3 linked regions of the Homo sapiens genome follow. The protein of the gene in region 2 purifies or fractionates together with the protein of the main gene of each other region. This does not show direct contact. Each region holds a gene or a part of one and is shown on either strand. Other genes may lie near its edges.

What was found. Proteins that work in one complex are often made in the same cells at the same time.
Region 1: the proteins of ZNF445 (region 2) and WDR62 purify together in Homo sapiens (co-immunoprecipitation; one large-scale study listed by IntAct). This does not show direct contact.
Region 3: the proteins of ZNF445 (region 2) and PPP2R1B purify together in Homo sapiens (affinity purification with mass spectrometry, with the first as the bait; one large-scale study listed by BioGRID). This does not show direct contact.

Annotation. Positions count from the first base shown.
Region 1 is NC_000019.10:36,057,897-36,061,396, reverse strand, and holds part of WDR62 (WD repeat-containing protein 62), read right to left. Parts: intron 2,618-3,500; coding exon 2,526-2,617; intron 1,430-2,525; coding exon 1,367-1,429; intron 1-1,366. UniProt on the Homo sapiens protein: Required for cerebral cortical development. Plays a role in neuronal proliferation and migration.
Region 2 is NC_000003.12:44,474,871-44,478,847, forward strand, and holds the start of ZNF445 (zinc finger protein 445), read right to left. Parts: upstream 2,801-3,977; 5' UTR 2,721-2,800; intron 1-2,720. UniProt on the Homo sapiens protein: Transcription regulator required to maintain maternal and paternal gene imprinting, a process by which gene expression is restricted in a parent of origin-specific manner by epigenetic modification of genomic DNA and chromatin, including DNA methylation.
Region 3 is NC_000011.10:111,742,390-111,745,889, forward strand, and holds part of PPP2R1B (serine/threonine-protein phosphatase 2A 65 kDa regulatory subunit A beta isoform), read right to left. Parts: intron 1,142-3,500; coding exon 987-1,141; intron 277-986; coding exon 134-276; intron 1-133. UniProt on the Homo sapiens protein: The PR65 subunit of protein phosphatase 2A serves as a scaffolding molecule to coordinate the assembly of the catalytic subunit and a variable regulatory B subunit.

The DNA of each region.
Region 1 (3,500 bases), on a different chromosome or scaffold from region 2:
CTCTGGTTTGTAGCTGCTGCCTTATGAATGCTCTCCCAGTTGGAGGCAGCTATTTTATTTTCAGAGGAGACCAAGGCTCTGAAAGAAGTGTCTCACCTGAGATTCCACAGTGAATAGACGCTTGAGCCAGGAATGGAACCCAGCTCTGCCCTTATCACCAGTAACAGAACCCACAGTTAGGAGCAAAAGGTCCAAAAAGCCACTTTCAAGAGGGAATGCACTTCTGTCAGATAACAAGAACCTGCCGTAGCTTAAGGACCGTACCTTAGGGACCATAAGGGCAGGAGAAAACCCACTCCTTATCCATCCACCTGGAGAACTGGGCCAAAGGAGCTGAGCCTGAGCTATGCCAAGGAGGGACATGGTGTGCCTTCCAAAGGTCACAGCCCTATTGGGACCACATCCCCAGGGTAGCAGTGATCAGTTAGCCCCAAGGCAGAGGAGCGGGTCCTTCCCCAGTAAACTTATAGCTGAAGGGATCTTTCTAAAACCCAAATCATGTTAAGTCTTTCTCTTAGAAAATAGCCATCAATATGCCAGATACTGCTCTTTGGTGCTAGGGACACAGAAATGAACTCAGAGAAAGTCCCTGCTCTCAAGAGTGCTCACACTGAGGGAGACCCACAGTGAATACCATCAATGAGGAAACTGGACAGCATATCAGAGATGGGAGCAAATTTTGTGGAGAAAAGCAAAGCAGGGAATAGAGCTGCTGGAGGGCTGGGGGTGAAAAGCACATTCCTGGCCTGTGGTGCCCTCCTGTGGCTGCTCTCTGCACTCAGCATGCTATGCAGACCCTCTACAAGGCTGCAAGGCCTACGGGATGTGGCTTCTGCCTGGTCCAGCCTCATCTTCCCTGCTCCTTTCTCCAGGCACCCAGATCCCTGGCTGCTTCTAAAGCGCCGGAGATTCTTAACCACTGCAGGGCCTTTGCCCTTCCTGTGCCCCCTGCCTGAAGCGCTCTCCCTACAGCTTCTTATGGGTCACCCTCTCGCTTCCTTCAGGTCTCAGAGTCAAGGCAGCGTTCCCTGAGCCTTCTGATAAGGCTTTCCTCCTATTCTCTGCCCACAAACCTGCCCGAAGACATCCTCCATCATTTCCTCCATAGCACTGATCATGATCAGCCCGTAATTTGCTGACTAGTTTACAGTCTGTCTCGCTCTAGCCAGCAGAGATTCTCGTCTCCTCTGGTCACTGCTGTGTCCCCAGCACACGGAACAGCACCCAGCACAGGCGAATGCTGCTGAGCCAACATGTAAGTGAATGAGTGAGCACCTACCCATGAGTATCTCCAGGCTGTGTAGGGGAGGGGAGGCGTGCCAAGCCCCTGGTTCCACCCCTGCCCCGGGCCCAGGCCTCAGCCTACCTGGCGGTGTTAAAGATGTGCTGCTGCTTGTTCTCCTTGGGGTCCAAAATCACCACCACACAGCTGGGAAGAAAGAGGAAAATGTGCCTCAACTGTGGGGAGTGTTGGGGTCCTGGGATGATTCTATTCCCACCAGAAAAGCCCACAAATAAACAAGCTCCCTCGGTTCTCTCTGGTCTCCTCCTCCTCCCCCTCCTCCAGGTGTTTACGCTGAGAATTCTAGGGCACTTTAACATTGCTATGTTCTTAAATAGAAACCAACACTTCCTCTGAGGTAATGTCTGTCAGGCCCTAGGCTAATTAAGACCTTAAGCTGGCTATAATCCCAGCACTTTGGGAGTATGGGGCAGGAGGGATCACTTGAGCTCAGGAGTTTTAGACCAGCCTGGGCGACAGAGTGAGATCTCATCTCCACTAAAAAAAATTAGCTGGCTGTGGTGGCATGTGCCTGTAGTCCCAGCTACATGGGAGGTGAAGATGGGAGGATCGCTTGAGCACAGGAGGTTGGGGCTGTAGTGAGCTGTTATTCACACTATTGCATTCTAGCCTGGGCAACACAGCCAGACTCTGTCTCAAAAAAGCAAAACAAAACAAAAAGAGAGAAAGAGGGATGTAATTGTTTTAAATCCTCACAACTGCCAGGTCAGGTCACGACTATTTAGGCCCATTTATAGATAAGGAAACAAACCCAGAGAGGGGACGTCCTTAGCACAGTGCCAGGCTACATGAGTATTTATGGAATGAACAGCTGTAGCATCTTCTTCAGTCTTCTCAACTATGCAAGCAGAGGGGGTCACCAGCTCTGTTTTACAGAGGCAGAGGAAGAGGCTCAGAGAGCAGCATACATGGCAGAGCTGGGACACAAATCCAGGTTACCTGACACCACAGCGTGGACTTTAATCACCTGTCTTTCCCAGAATCGCTGTCACCTCCCCCCTGTAGTCATAATAAAGGCTTTCATTGCACTCACTACATGCCAGGAACTGTTCTAGACAGAGAGGGGGCTATGGAATCCTCTCCACAGCTCTCAGAGGCAGGCCCCATTCTCCACATTCTACAGGTGAAAAATATGAGGCTCAGAGCGATTTACGGATGGCTTCAGGTTCCAAGCTCCAAATTCCCTAGCAATGATTAGACGTCGAGGCCCTTATCTGCTTACCCTGCCAGGTAGGCCACATGGCCTGTGCCGGGGTCACAGGTTAGGCCACTGCTGTTCTGGGCTGTGATGCCAAGCACCTTCTCGAGTGACACCTGCAAAGAAAAAGCCCAAGTCAGAGGCACCCACCCTAGCCAGCACCACATGGTGCAGCCGCCTTGGCCACCCATTCAGGTCCTGCTACATTCAACACCCACACTGAGCTTCTGTGGCCACGCCATCCACCAGCAGCTAACACTTGTTCTCTCAACATTCCTTTGACAAATACAACGCTAGGTGAAAAGCACAGAGTGGTGAGGAAGAGACAAATCCCTGCCCTCGGGGGGCTCACATTCTACTGGTGATGGGTATGTAGAACATAGAAAAGGAGCAGAACAAATATGTGAAATAGATGCCAAGTAATGATGGGTGCAAGAGAGAAGAAAGCAGATAAGGAGGTTAGGAGCACAGGGGAAGGGGGCGAATGCCGCGGTGAGAAGGTGACCTGTGAATAAGTTTCTAAGTACTTTTTTTTGTTTGTTTTTGAGATGGAGTCTTGCTCTGTCACCCAGGCTGGAGTCAGTGGTGAGATCTTGGCTCATTGCAACCTCCGCCTTCCAGGTTCAAGCAATTCTCCTGCCTCAGCCTCCTGAGTAGCTAGGATTACAGGCACATGCCACCATGTCCGGCTAATTTTTGTATTTTTAGTAGAGATGGGGTTTCACCATGTTGGCCAGGCTGGCCTCGAACTCCTGACCTCAGGTGATACACCCGCCTCGGCCTCCCAAAGTGCTAGGATTACAGGCATGAGCCACTGTGCCCGGCCTCTTAGTACTTTTATATGTATAAAAGACTTGAATCCTCCCAACAAGCCACGAAGAAGGCTCTATTATCACCCCTGTTTTACAGGTAAGAAGTCTGAGGCCCAAGATCCTACATCTGCAAGTGGCAATGTTGATATACAAACCCAGGCAGTCTGGCTCCAAAGCTAGCACTTTG
Region 2 (3,977 bases):
CCTGTAATCCTAGTACTTTGGACGGCCGAGGCAGGTGGATCACCTGAGGTCAGGAGTTTGAGACTAAAAATATGAAAATTAGCTGGGCGTGGTGGCGCATGCCTGTAATCCCAGCTACTCAGGAGGCTAAGGAGGGATAATTGTTCAAAGGGGATGGGGCGGGGCAGAGGTTGCAGTGAGCTGAGATCATGCCACTTCACTCCAGCCTGGGTGAAAGAGCGTTAACTCTGTCTCAAAAAAAAGGTTTGTCTTATCTTACATTGAGAAGTTCCAGTCATTCAGTCATCATCATTTTTATCTGATTTATTTCCATTTTAGGTATTACAGGTTTTGTTTTGTTTTTTTGAGACGGAGTTTCACTCTTGTTGCCCAGGCTGGAGTACGATGGCGTGACCTCCACTCACTGCAACCTCCGCCTCCTGGGTTCAAGCAATTCTCCTGCCTCAGCCTCCCAAGTAGCTGGGATTACAGGTGCCCGCCACCATGCCCAGCTAATTTTTTGTATTTTTAGTAGAGATGGGGTTTCACCATGCTGGCCAGGCTGGTCTTGAACTCCTGACCTCAGGTGACCCACCCACCTCAGCCTCCCAAAGTGCTGGGATTACAGGCATGAGCCACCATGCTCAGCCAGGTATTAAAGATTAACTTGGTAAGTGGCTCTTAAAAATCGAGGACATTTAATACTGTCAATTTTTATCTACCAATTTGGATTCCTTCTTTCATTAATTTGTCATATATTTATTGAGAACCTACTGTATGTTCCAGTACTGCCTTGAGGCGTCTATGAGGAGACAGATTCGTGGTATGCTAAACAGTGACAGCTGCTACATAGTAATATAAAACAAGAGGCGGGCACGGTGGCTCACGCCTGTAATCCCAGCATTTTGGGAGGCTGAGGCAGGCAGATCACCTGAGGTCGGGAGTTCGAGACCAGCCTGACCAATACGGTGAAACCCCGTCTTTACTTAAAATACAAAAATTAGCTGGGCGTGGTGGCACACACCTGTAATCCCAGCTACTTGGGAGGCTGAGGCAGGAGAATCACTTGAACCCAGGAGGCGGAGGCTGCAGTGAGCCGAGTTTGCACCACTGCACTCCAGCCTGGGCAACAAGAGTGAAACTCCGTCTCAAAAATAAAATAAATAAAATAAACAAGGAAAAAGAAAATAAATTTAAGAATAGGAAGGAAAAAAAGAAATTCATAAATTCAATCTTACAGAACACCTAACAATTCGCCTGAGAGTCACAGAAATGTACTCTTTCACATTGTTTCTAATACAAAATCTTGAAAATTGCAAAATACAGTGTTATGTTTTACTATAGTTTACTCTCTGACATCGTAGACTGCTTATGCACTAATTCTTCCTGGATACCGGAAGCCAGAGAAAACCTAGCGGTGGAATACTTGCCATTTTTCATGCTTTTTGTCAGTTTCCTTTTTAAGTGCATACTGAGGTTTATCTTCAAAACATTCTCATCTTTTCGGCTTACAGTAAGACTTTTTTTTTTTTCTAACCAAAATGTGTCTGCCTTTCATTAAGATAACATAAAAGAGCAGCCTAATTCTTTGGTCCCTGAATATGCACACACATGCATGCACACACACACACGCAGACACACACACAACACATGGAGGCTCTCTGAAACTGCTTAATCAAATTACTGCTCAAACCACTCCCTGGCACTTCCTTGCAAAACAACCAACCTAATACTGAGTTTTTAGTTTTGCACTACAAGCCGTTTGAAACAGAATAACATTCTTTCCTGGCCACCACTTTTAAATTCGGAAGGAGACAATACTCTGATCTCTTAGGCCTGTGCAAGTCAGAGTGTGCTACAATCGCTGCAGGTTAGAGCTCTGCCTTTGTTTAAAAACTGCATTTTATATACTAGTTACTTCATTGTGAAAGATAACCACCCTGACAAACAAGATTTTGCTATTTTTCTGCACAAATGTCACTTCACCATTTAGAGCTTCATGCAAATGTGTCTCCTACAGAAAATAAACTGCAAACACGATTTCTTAATTATCCTCGCCAAAAAAAAAATGTTTTAGTGGTGTCATAATGCCAGCACTAATTTTAGCCAAAATAAGAACAAATGCATTCTACAAATTCAGGAGATTATAATTTTTAAAAAGCAGTAGTATGGATATACTTAATGTCACTGAATTACACACTTCCAAATGGTTAAATGGTAAACGTTTATGTATTGTATGGTAAATGTTATGTGTTATTTTGGCACAATATTGTTTCCTCACAATAATACTAACAGGTTTTTTAAAAAGCAAGAGCACGCTCTCATTTCGTAATATATATTTATGGATGTCAGTGTGCAGAATTATGCACAGATATTTTAAATGTCAGGAGGCCTGGAGACAGATTTCAGGATTGCGGCTACTTTTACTTTTCTTCTACTTTCCCGTGTTATCTAATTGTCTCTGATAAATACGCTTTATATGCAGAATTGGATGAAACGAGAAAGCCCGGAGAAACCCGGGCTCCAGATTCTCTACCCCGGACGCCTGGGAGGCAAAGAGGTTCTAGATACGCCCTCAGCGTGGCGGGGGCGGGATCCACCGCCAGACCCCCGCCACGGGCGCAGCCTCCAGGCCGGGCCCCGTCCGCCGCCCGGGCAGGCCCGAGAATGCCGCGGACTTCGGGGAGCCCCGCGCCCGCAATGCCGCCACCCCCACCCCCGCGCCCCGCCAGGCCTCTCACCGACTCCCGCCGCCGAGCGACAATCGGTCCACCCGCCGCCACCGCAGCCGCCCGTCCCGCGCCTACCTCCCGGCGGCTCCAGTCGCGCACGCGCGTCGGCGCCCGGGGCCCTCCGCGGCCTCTCTAGGAAACTGGGAGGCCCAACGTCTCTGCTTCTCTCCGGCTCCGGTGCGGCGGGCGGCGGGGCTTGTCCAACATCCCTCACCTCCCTCAGTTGGACATTTCCCTTCCACGCTCGGATGCCCAGCCGCGCCTGTTTTCTTGCATCCCTCCTGTCGTGTCTGCGGGGCTGCCCTGAAGGCCTCTTTCCCTCCAGGGAAGAAAGGGATCCAAAGCTAGGGGTGAAAATAGGGCCAGCAGTATCTAGCAGACTGGTCCTGGCCAGGAGAAGGGGTTAAGGGAGCCACTCATTCTTCGCCTGGGTACACTTCAAAGAGGGGAACCAGATCCTACGGGAAGCTAGGTGCCAGAACTCCTGCCTTTCCAAGACGAGCTCATCCCCATCATCACCATACCCAGGAATACTTGTTCATAGCCAGCTCAGAGGTGCACCATACTTTAGCTTCCCACGGCCTTCACTCGTTTTCTCCTGTGGGTGAATTCTAACTAGGCTCGCCTGGTGAGTGAACAATGATGCCATTGCCCAATAATATGTGGAATCTGGGAGGAGTAGGTTGGGGGTAGGGGGTGGAGGGGCTGCTTGAAGAGGAGGTGAAGCAACCTGGAGAGGTTGCCCACCCCCTGTAGGAGCAAATGTCATCTATTGCCAGTGCCAGAGAACCTTGAGGGTGCACAGCCAAAGCCATAAGGCCATCTGCTGCCATTGGAGGGCATGCTACAAGCTGCTGTCCTGGTAGTCCTCTGGTTTGTGCTTCCTAGTGGCAGGCTGCAACATGTTGACGATTGATCTTTCAGATGGGCATTGATGATGCCCATCTGTGCCCTGAGGCTTTGCTTTACTCATCTGATCCACCCCTTTTTAATGCCCCAGTCACCAAAGATGGAAACAGAGAATAGATCCTGAACACCAGGAAGATGGTGACAAGGTGATAGAGAAACAGATGGCACATTCAAACAAGGTAAGTGGGGAGAGTTCACAAGGGGCGATTTACACAAAGTGGACAGGGTTAAGGAAATGCAACACGGAGTGGTGCAGAATCCCATGGCTAGCAAAATTTAGAAGCTATTCTCACCCCTAGGAGCAGGCCATCTGAGAGAAACTGTGGCTTTCAGTTGAGGGCTACATCCAAGCCATAG
Region 3 (3,500 bases), on a different chromosome or scaffold from region 2:
ATTATTTTCTTTAAGCAAACCCAGATCTTAAGTAAAGTGAAAATCCCTGAACTTAATTTTAGCTAATTACTCCCCACTATAAGGTAAAATTTAAAGTACACTTTTAAAACAAGACTAAACACTAAAATCTTACTTGGTATCTAGAATTGGTCCAATCTTTTGTAGAGATTTGGCCACATTGAAGCGAACATTTGCTACTTGGTCTCCTGCCATTTTTAATACGATGGGCAGCATTTGCTTAGTAGTTATTTCCTGACCACAGGCCTCAGACAGTGCCTAGAAAAATAAGTAAGATGGCACATTTAAAATACTTTAAAAAATTCCAAAATCTAATGAAACAAATTAATATTTAATAAGAAAATAATTGACCAATAGGAAAATATTTCTAGTTTGAGCAGCTGAGTGGGGGACACAAGAATCATTCAAATGATCAGAGAATTAGACCAGAATTCACAAATAAGTTGAACTTTTAAAATACTGTAGTTTTGTTCTTTGTTTTTTTTTTTTTCAGGCGGAGTTTTGCCTTGTCGCCCAAGCTGGAGTGTAGTGGCGCGATCTCAGCTCACTGCAACCTCTGCACCCTCTGCCCCCTGCCCAAGGTTCAAGGGAGTCTCCTGCCTCAGCCTCCCAAGTAGCTGGGACTACAGGCATGCACCACCATGCCCGGCTAATTTTTGTATTTTTAGTAGAGACAAGGTCTTGCCATGTTGACCAGGCTAGTCTCAAACTCCTGACCTCAGGTGATCTGCCCGCCTCAGCCTCCCAAAGTGCTGGGATTACAGGCATGAGCCACTGTGCCCAGCCAATACTGTAGATTTTAACATGAATTTTAAAATTGACATTTTCTCTCATCTCCTGTCTATTCCAATTAATCAATACAAGACATATATTCCAAATAGAAGACAGTATACTGATAATTCAGAAATAGTCATGAATAATTTTGCTTTAATGATTAAGCTTAGCAATAACAGTTATGTTATACTTACATTAATGCAGAATAAAGTGGTCATTCTATGCAAGTAATTAGGATCATTTGCCATTACTAACACTTTGGGAACAATAGTATTTTGGGCCCACTCTGTACCAAACTTCTGAACTAGTTTCATGAGGTTGTTGGTGGCAGCTTCTCGGATGGCGTATACTGCAGAAGAGGTCAAAAACATGTTCTCATATCGCTTATTGTTTTTTAAGCATAACCTAGTTTACTTACATGAAAATCAAATGTGGACCAAAAGCAAAACCCCTCTGCAATCAGACTCCACATGTAATCATGCTGCAATGACAAGCATGCTCAGCTCCAACTCAGTTTCCAAGTGTGCATATCCACAGAAAAGGGATGCAAGGAGCTCACCATATGCATCATCAATTATTTAACAAATACAAGTGCCTACTATGTGCTACAAAAAGAACACAGAAGATACTTTCCCTCACAAGAAATATGCTCTTATCAGAGAAATGAAAGCTAACACACTCCATGAAGTCACATGGTGTAAGAGCAATTAGAATGAAGTGTGGCATTGTGTAGTAAAGGCTGTGAGGGTTGTAGCAGTGCAGAGAAGAGTGAACAGGGAAGGTCTAGGAAGGCTTCGGCACAGAAAGAAGCCTTGACTGGGCAGTGAAGATTTGGGAGGATCTGTGTAAGTGGAGAGAAGCGGGGAGGAATTCCTAGAAAGGGTAAAGACATGTATCCAGGACACAAACAGAAAAAACTGAAACCTGTGAGACTTCTAAGTTAGACAATTAGGGTGGACCCAGACTGCAGAGCATTATGAAAGACTTAGATTTGATTAGGAAAAACAGTGATGGGTTTTTAAAGCAAACTTGTGACCTGATGACCAATGTGGAATTTTAGCAAGATTATTCCAGCAACATCACGGAGAAGCGACGTTGACTGAGAAAGACAACAAGGAAATGGTGTAGAGGCCACTGTGGTCATCTATACAACAGCAAATACAAACATCAGACTGACTTGCTTCCTCTCCATGAAAATGCTTAGGTTGAAACAAGATGTCAAATGTCTTTGAATCAATGTGCCTGCCTTAACATCTAATAATTCCCTATATCCTTTGATCATTTATCAAAGACATAAAGCTAGATAATAAAGGTCTCAGCTACAATCCTCTCACAATTAGTTGCTATATACAGCACTGAACAAAAACAAGCCTGGTGTCACTTCACTTTACAGATCCAGTAAGACTCAAAATTTGGGCTCAGATTAACAAATCGAGGGTGGTAGGTACTAATTCCTTATTCTACTTCTCTCCCCAGGTGGGCCCAACCTTCCTGGGATGATAGGAAGGGCAGGAATAGCTATCCAAGCCACAGTCCCAGTCCTAGGCAATTTATACAAGCCTCCAACCAAGAAATAGGCAACTTCTTCTATTCATAGATCCTTCTGGGCAATGATGTTGAGAACAAGCAAGACAGCATAGACAAGTGACCCATACAACTGATTATCAACACTTAAACTGACAGTCTACAGGAGAAGCAACCTTTCGGTAAGACTCAGATGCACTAAGGAGCAAACTCAAGTCAACTGTTTTACTGTAATACAGATTCCTTCCCTTCATATCCATAGTCTTTGTCTTTGGCCCAAACCCTTCCCTGTCCTCCCCACTAAAGAGGAGCTAGCTAGAGTATTTGTGTCTTCTCCTCTAATTTTTTTTTTTTTTTTTTTTTTGAGACAGAGCCTCACTCTGTCTCTCAGGCTGGAGTGCAGTGGCGAGATCTCGGCTCACTGCAACCTCCGCCTCCTGGGTTCAAGCAACTCTCCTGCCTCAGCCTCCTGAGTAGCTGGGATTACAGGCGCCCGCCAACACATCCAGCTAATTTTTGTGTTTTTAGTAGAGACAGGGTTTCACCATGTTGGCCAGGCTGGTCTCGAACTCCTAACTTCAAGTCATCCACCCGCCTCAGCCTCCCAAAGTGCTGGGATTACAGGCATGAGCCACCATGCTCAGCAAATTACTATTTTTTTTAACACGCTTTAGATTTTTATCATAATGCCATTACCATAGGAAGGGATCTCTACTGCCAGAAAAACCAGAGACTGGGGAACACACATGCATAGCCTTGACCAAGACCTTAACTGCACTGAACTCTACTTGGCCAGATGCCTACTATGTTCTTGGTTCCTCTGACTGTTTTCAGAAGAATGCAAACCATTCCAGAGTTCTGCCTGTTTTCTTTTGTCTATTTCTGTCTCTTTCTCTCTCCCCATCTCCTCTCAAGGCCTGGCTGACCTGCAAGGTTTCTTTGAATGTCTATCTATGCTCAATAACTGATACCTTCTCCTTTCTCCTATAATAAATAAATAAATTTCCCTTCTACATTCCTCCCTCTGATCAAAACTGTCTACTCAACCACAGGAATATAGGTGAGTGATACTTTCTTCCTTATACTTCTCTGGAATTTTCACAATGTTCTTTTAGTAGTTACCTAACTAGGGGAAAAGTTTCAAAAACTCTAACTGATCCAGTGATCATTATATAACACTTATC